Linked DNA regions of Homo sapiens. The protein of the gene in region 1 interacts with the protein of each later gene in a pairwise test. Each region holds a gene or a part of one and is shown in the gene's direction. Other genes may lie near its edges.

Region 1 (3,918 bases):
GTTGAGACCAGCCTGGCCAACATAGTGAAACCTCATCTCTACTAAAAATACAAAAATTAGCTGGTCATGTTGATGCCTGTTGTAATCCCAGCTACTCGGGAGGCTGAGGCAGGAGAATCTCTTGAACCCGGGAGGTGGAGGTTGTAGTGAGCTGAGATCATGCCACTGCACTCCAGCCTGGGCAACAGAGTGAGACTCTGTTTCAAACAACAAAGATGAGTTGAGTGTAGCCCCTATCCTTCAGAATCTTCCAGCCAACTTGGGAGAGACTTAATAGCTATAGTAGAGGGATGTGAAAGATGCTATGAGATCTCAGAGGAGGAGAATTCTAACTCATCCTCATGCTTCAGAAAGAGGCTATTGTCCTGAGACTGAAAGCTCCAAAATGGATGGGAGAACTCAATAAGTTAGGGCTTACTATAGAAAGGACTGTGCTAGACTCAAGTGTAATGTGTTGAATGACTCCAGGTAATCTAGTGTGCCTCTTCCTGCTTTTCCACTTCAAAGTAAATTGTTAGATACAGCAGAGATGGGCTCTAGAAAGAAGTGGAAGGCCACATGATGGCATGTATGTAGTTCTGAGGAGGTCGACATTTGTCTGATAGAAACAGGAAACAATTGAACTTGTGACCTTCCTCTTTGGTTGGCCTTTAGAATATCAAGTCTGCTCTCCCAACTGTAAGCAGGAGCACAGCCTTGGAGTGACTCCTTAGTGCCACTGATACCTGGGAAGACTGTTGATTATTCAGTGTTTCAGTCCCACCTTTGTCTTGCTTTAACAGGAGCACTAATTTCCTTTCCTTTTCTCCTTTCCCTTGTCACAATGATTCTTTTCATTTGGTCTACTCCTGTCATTTTTTTTACCTACCACAAAGTTAGTAGTCCACCAACATATCCTTTCCCTTCTCAGAATGGAGTCCCGCCTGCCATTTTATCTTGAGGACCTTAAAAAATTAATAACTCTGGTTGTCTAACCTAGGGACTGGAAGATGACAAAAATTGTACTACAAAGAATTGGTAAGGAGTTATTGTAGCCTAGGTAAGAAAAAAAATAAGGGTCTTACTAAGACTGGCAGTGGAAATGGAAAAGAGGTAACACATTGGAGGGAAATTTAGGAGGCAGAATTGACAGGATCTGAAATGGTTTGAATATTGTTGAGGTAGAGAAGGAGGATTAGACAATCCAGACAACTGAATGGAAGACGGATAAAAAAATAAGGGAGAGAAAAGATAATTGGTGGGCTTGCATCTCTGAAGATAGAAGAAGGGATTTGATCTAGAATGCACAGGAAGAGATTAGCCTTAAACAGAAAGAAATTTTTTTTTCTCTGTGGTCTGAAGAGAAGGTCTGGTTGGGAAGAGCAGCCAGTCCACTTGCTTTTAATATGCCATGGGTCATGCCTTGCTAAAGGATGTGGTGATGGAGCTTGAAGGCAGCAACCTTTGCTTCTGTTTGTTTGTCCCACCTTTACTCCGGGGCTTGAGCCTCCTTTTCCAGCCCTCTTCCTCAGAATGGAGACCAGTGACCTTGAACAGAAAGCTTGGGAGACAGCACCCATCCTTACCTTCATCTTTACCCTCATCCTTCCCCACTGGTGACAAGTTGGGTAAGTCATGTCACTCCTGCAGGGCAGGCCCAAGGAAGGAGGGAGTGGTGCCTCTTTAGCCTCAGGCCAAAGCTGGCTTAGCTGATCAAATTTATGAGACAGCCTTTATGACTTTTTATATATTCTATCACTTTACTTTTGAAATTGTGCCTTAGAGAGTGGTGCCAGCCCATGCACTGTGCAGATATAAGTACTGAAATTGAGAGTTTCAAAAACAAAAAAAAACTGGTTCTTCACCACAGGTAGTTTAAGAAGCATTGCTTCATCAGACAGAGCCCTGAAGGGAACCAGATTTGCTGACATTGACTGAGTAAATATTTGGACTCCCTTTATGTGCCAGGCCCTGCTTGAGGTCTTGGGGATGCAGTCATGAACAAATGAGGCAGCCTCTCTATTCTTGGGGAATTTAAATCTCAGCAGGGAAAGACAGTAAATAAGAAAGCAAGTGAATAAGAAAATAAGGTAAGGCATAAGTTATAAGAAGAAATTAATTAAATTAAACCAGGAAAATGATATATACAGGATGCTCCAGTGGATTAGATGGTCAGTGACATGCTTTCTGAAGAGGCAACAGTTGGACTGAGAGCTGAATCATGAGGAATGGAGAGGGCAGCTAGTGCAGAAGCTACAATGAGTTTGATGCAGTTCAAGGGCCTGCTGGGTCACTGGTGCTGAATATGATCATAAGAGAGGCCTAGGTTGGGGAGGTGACAGGAGAGCCTCATGGGCCAGGATGAAGAGTCTGGATTTTACTGGATGGCCACTGAAAAGCCTTTGGAGGGTTTCATGCTTGGCCTTGTTTTTGTTTTAAAAGATCACCTTGGCTGTCATGTGGAAAACTCATGTTTGGGGGAGCAGGAGTAGAGTCAGACCAACCAGGAGGTTGATGTGGGTGAGAGCAAGTGCTGCCTAGGCCTAGAGAGGTGACAGTGCAGGGCAGGGGAGCTGGGTGGATGCCGATATGCTTTAGCGGTAAAGGAGGTGGGTGATAGGTGAGATGTGAGGATGAGAATGAAATGACATCGGGGATTTTGGTTTGAGCAATTGAGTGGTTCGTGTGGCTGTTTACTAAAATGGGGATGACTGGGGAAGAGCAGATGCTGATGGATATTGCTGGAGCAGGAGTTCTGTTGGGGCCTGTTAAGTGTTTTGTTTTGTTTTTTGTTTGTTTGTTCAACTCACTGCAACCTCCGCCTCCCGGGTTCAAGAGATCCTTCCACCTCAGCCTCCTGAGTAGCTGGGACTACAGGCACACATCACCACGCCTGGCTAATTTTTGTATTTTCAGTAGAGACGAGGTTTCACCATGTTGGCCAGGCTGGTCTCGAACTCCTGACCTCAAGTGATCCGCCCACCTCGGCCTCCCCAAATGCTGGGATTACAGCCGTGAGCCATCGTGCCCAGCTAGGGCCTGTTAAGTTTTAAGCACTTTAGACGTCCCAGTGTAGATGTTAAAAGGTAGAAAGGTGGAGTCTGGAGGTGAGGTAAGAGGTTAGGGCTGGAAATAAATATTTGGCAGTGAATGGTATTTTAAGTCAAGGGATCCCTCAGGAGAGTGTTTTATGGCTGTGTGTATATGTGCTATTTTATTTTCCCAGTAATGTTCAACTACTTAGTTTAGAAGAGGAAGAACAGAAAGCATAGGAAGTGATTTTTAACTTGTAGGATATTAGAGAGATTCATATTTTAAGAGTAGAGGGGTCCAGGTAGTGGACTAGTCCCGATTATGGTTATTACAGTTTGATGAAATGTGGCTGAGATCATTGGCACTGTGGAGATTAAGAAATGTGAGGTCAGAGTGTTGGGTAAATTGTTCCTGCGAGTGTTAAGGTTGTCAGGATAATGGTGGGAATGGGGTGAAGATGACAACTCAGCAATGACACAAGAAGAGAGTGACACAGAAAGATTCAGTAGCTGAGAACTTGAGCGTAGATATGTTGTGGGCAGGAGGGAAATGATTTGGATGGAAGTAGCCAAGTAAGTGAGAAAGGAAAGACTTTCCAACAAAACTTGGCTTAGCTCACTCAGATCCCTGAGCTGCAAACTTCTTCTATACCTTTCTTACCTTTTCCAGTGCTGCTGACTTCACCCCACTTGCAGGGCATTTGTGCAGATGGTTGTTTGTTGAGGAGGAATGTGCTTAATGTTTTAGGAACCAGTTACATTCAAGGATGCCTCTGTGGCCTTCACCGAGGAGGAGTGAGGTCACCTGGACTCTGCTCCCAGGAAGCTGTGCGGAGCTGTGATGCTGGGCAACTACAGAAACTTGGTCTTGGTGGGTAAGGACATGTGAACTTGGACACCTGCCCAT
Region 2 (3,918 bases), on another chromosome or scaffold:
TTAAAATTCATATAGTAAGAAGGTTAGTTGTAAACACCAATGAAATATATATACTTTGCAAGAAGACAGTTTTGAGAGCATAGGCAGTAAAGTGGAAGGAATTCCATTGTTTTTGACAATCTTGCATATCTCTCATTTTCCCATTGTTTAATTTCTAAGTGGATGTTCAGTGGAGGCTAACGCCTGAGAGTGCTGATGGGAAATGGTGGAAATCTGGAGCTACAGTAGCAGTGAACAAGAACACCAGCTAATAAAGTTATCATATCAAAGAATAAAGCCTTTACCACATGCTCACTGGTGGCTTTCACCCTCGGGCTCCTCTGAGCAGTAGTAACCCAGGTTGAACTCTTCAGGTATTTTCTGGAAGAAAGCTTAATTACAAACTTTTCCTTGAATTACATTAGGTTAGAAAACATGCAGCCAGGCACGGTGGCTCATGCCTGTAATCCCAACACTTTGGAAGGCTGAGGTAGGCAGATCACTTGAGCTTAGGAGTTTGAGACCAGCCTGGGCAACAAGGCGAAACCCCATCTCTACTAAAAATCCAAAATTAGCTGGGGGTGCTCGTGCACACCTATAGTCCCCAGGTACTCCGGAGGCTGAGGTGGGAGGATCACCTGAGCCTGGGGACGTCAAGGCTCCAGTGAGCTGAGATCACGCCACTGCACTCCAGCCTGGCAACACAGTGAGACCCCCATCTCAAAAAAAAAAAAAAAATGCTGTAGGTGAAAGAACCATGCAACACTTCAAAGATTGATAAAATATTTACAAAATGCTCTCATTTTTAAACTTATAAGGCATACTGAAGTAGTGTATCAGGCAAGTGAAAGCCTCACTAGAAGAAGGAAAGACTAGAATTTAAAAAATGTTTTAACCCATAAGGTCATCCTGGACTTACCCCAAGGACAAGAATGTCACACTGTCTTTATCCAAGTCTCAAAGGTAAATATCACAATTATTTACTTAGATCCCTTTAAAAGTGATCATTTCTTTTTTTTTCTTTTTTCATAAATAATTACAAGAACAAGCAAATAATTTCTCCTTTTATTGCTGAGGCTAAAGAAAAGCAGTAAAATTTTATTGGGAAACATTTGAGCTTTTCATTACATATTTGCAATTGCTATGTATGTGCACATAGGTTCAGTAGTATGTTGCACTAGCATTTGGAAACTATAATCTGTGGAAAGTGTGACACTCCTAGATTGGCAGATATTTGCGTGTTTGAATTGTGATACGTGACCACTGGTCTTATTTTTGTGTCAAAAGGATGATCTTTTCCAATAAAGTCTTAAGTCTTTAAAAAAAAAACCTTAACTGCTGAATGTGCCTCAATTAATATAATAGATAATATTCTTGAGAGTTATGGAAGATGGATGTACCAGAAAACTTCCCTCTCTCCTCCTCTTTTTTGAGACAGGGTCCCTGTTTCCGAAGCTGGAATGCAGTGGCATGGTCACAGCGTCAACCACTTGGGCTTAAGCAGTCCTCTCACCTCAGCCTTTCCAGAGGCTGGCACTACAAGCATGTGTGCCTGGCTACTTTTTAAAAAATTTTTTGTAGAGTTGGAGTCTATGTTGCCCATGCTGGAGGACTTCCTGTTAAGGAAAATCCTTATTAAATGTTTTTCTAGCAAGAATAAATACTCTCATTCATTTTTATTTGTAGGTACTGATTTTCATAAATATTTGTGATTGATGTTGCATGTACCTTTTCAAGAACTTTTCTGATAAAGCGCTAGATTCCTTAGTGTAATAATACTGGTATAGCCAAGGTGTGTGTTAATTAACTGGCTCTGTTTCCATTTCAAATGATAATTTGAGATGAAAATAGATGGATTTCAGAATTGATTATTGATGTAATAGAAACAAGGTGTAGCTGTTTGGGCACTTTTTGTTTAGGGTTTATTTTTACTGCTGTGTTGGCAAAATACTGAAATGCAGAAGATGGATGTGTCCCAGAAAAGAAGATGGTAATTATGGGGAAGCATCTGCTGTGATATAGTTATGTTTGTATGTGTTACATCTATCACTGTAATAATTGTAAGCAAAGACAGAGAGTTTTGTCTTCATTTTGTGATGGATGGCTCTTTCCTTTGCAGCCAAACAGGGAAAAAGTTAATGGCGAAGTGTCGAATGCTTATCCAGGAGAATCAAGAGCTTGGAAGGCAGCTGTCCCAGGGACGTATTGCACAACTTGAAGCAGAGTTGGCTTTACAGAAGAAATACAGTGAGGAGCTTAAAAGCAGTCAGGATGGTAAGGGGTTTGTTTCTTTTTGGAACGTTGTCTCAACTTTGCATTGGCTTTTTAAAACTGCCAGTCATGAATATTATAGGTTAGATTCTGTACATTGTTAACCTCTGCCCTATGATTGTATATTATTGTGAGTGAAGCATTTTTAGTTGAGTCCGCAAACAAAGCCATATAATTTTAGTTTGTTTATCCCCACCCTCCTAATTCTTTATTGTTCAAAATTTCTTACATTTTTGTTTTTAGTTGGGGGTAGGATTTGGTAAAAGATAAAAGGGTGTTGTATTACTTAACAAGATGGACAAATTTGTATTCATTGTTTGAAAGGGAGAATAAGCATTTCTCGTTAAGTGTAAATCTTAGAAACATGGGCAGTTTTCAGCGATCTGAAAGTAATAAAGTTGATTGTATCTGTGAAGGTTTTATTAGTGAATAAGAGATTTAATCTTTAAATTTGCTGAGATAAAACTTGTCAGCCTCCATCCTTTTTAGTGCAAGTGTAGCTGTATCTCTGTTTCTCTTCTTTGTAAGGTGCATTATTAATAAGGAAAATATCCAAATTCTTTGAAATTTTAAATTGAAAATTAGTGTCTCTGGTTAATTGCAAAGATGATCAGTAGCCAAGTAATTTCTTCTGAACTACCTACCTTTTCAAAATCTTCAGGAATTATTTCCTGTGACTTTTGTCCTTTTATATGTAACAGTCCTTGGTTGAGAACATGGGCCTCTTTGGAGTGTTATAGAGGACCACACTATCCTTAAGGATCAGACTTGCTATGGAACTAAGGCACTGGATCAGGAATAAGGGGATTGGCCATAGTGGGCCCATAGGTAAACGTGAGTCAAACTTTGGGGCTGTAATCAGGCATATGGCAAGATGGATCAAAACAATTTTAACTTGGTTGCTTAATACAGTTGCCCTCGGTATCCATGGTGGATTGGTGTCAGGACCTCCCACAGTAAGCCCCTCATATAAAATGATGTCATATTTACATATAAACCTATGTACATCTTCCCCTTTGAGCCATCTCTAGATTAACAGTACCTAATACAATATAAATGCTAGGAAAATAGTTATTTTACTGTATTGTTTGGGGGATAATGACAAGAAAAAAAATCTGTACATGTTCAGTATAGACCCAGTTTTTTCTTCCTTGAATATTTTCCTTCTACAGTTGCTTGAATTCATTGTTGCATGTGGAGGGCCAACTGTATATTATTTTAAGTATCTGACTTCCCCCAAAACAAACTCAGTCATATTTTAAGATTCCAAGCAAAATTTTTAAATGTAGTGTGATTTTAGAATTGTATTTGTTTACTTGAGCGTTTATTGACTCCCTTGCTTTGTGGCAGGCACTAAAGAAACATTTTTCAATGTTATAAACGATATTAAAGTTGGTCTGACTCTCCTTTGCACAGAACTGAATGACTTCATCATCCAGCTTGATGAAGAAGTAGAGGGTATGCAGAGTACCATTCTAGTTCTGCAGCAGCAGCTGAAGGAGACACGCCAGCAGTTGGCTCAGTACCAGCAGCAGCAGTCTCAGGCCTCTGCCCCAAGTACCAGCAGGACTACAGCTTCTGAACCTGTAGAACAGTCAGAGGCCACAAGTAAAGACTGCAGTCGTCTGACAAACGGACCAAGTAATGGTAGCTCCTCCCGCCAGAGGA

What was found.
Region 2: the proteins of ZNF239 (region 1) and WTAP interact in binary tests that used the Homo sapiens proteins (3 or more experiments, as listed by UniProt).

The regions. Positions count from the first base shown.
Region 1 is NC_000010.11:43,567,863-43,571,780, reverse strand, and holds part of ZNF239 (zinc finger protein 239), read left to right. Parts: exon of another isoform or gene 1-1,390; coding exon of another isoform or gene 1,391-1,607; intron 1,608-3,321; exon of another isoform or gene 3,322-3,759; coding exon of another isoform or gene 3,760-3,886; intron 3,887-3,918. UniProt on the Homo sapiens protein: May be involved in transcriptional regulation.
Region 2 is NC_000006.12:159,751,362-159,755,279, forward strand, and holds part of WTAP (pre-mRNA-splicing regulator WTAP), read left to right. Parts: intron 1-2,098; coding exon 2,099-2,253; intron 2,254-3,666; coding exon 3,667-3,918. UniProt on the Homo sapiens protein: Associated component of the WMM complex, a complex that mediates N6-methyladenosine (m6A) methylation of RNAs, a modification that plays a role in the efficiency of mRNA splicing and RNA processing.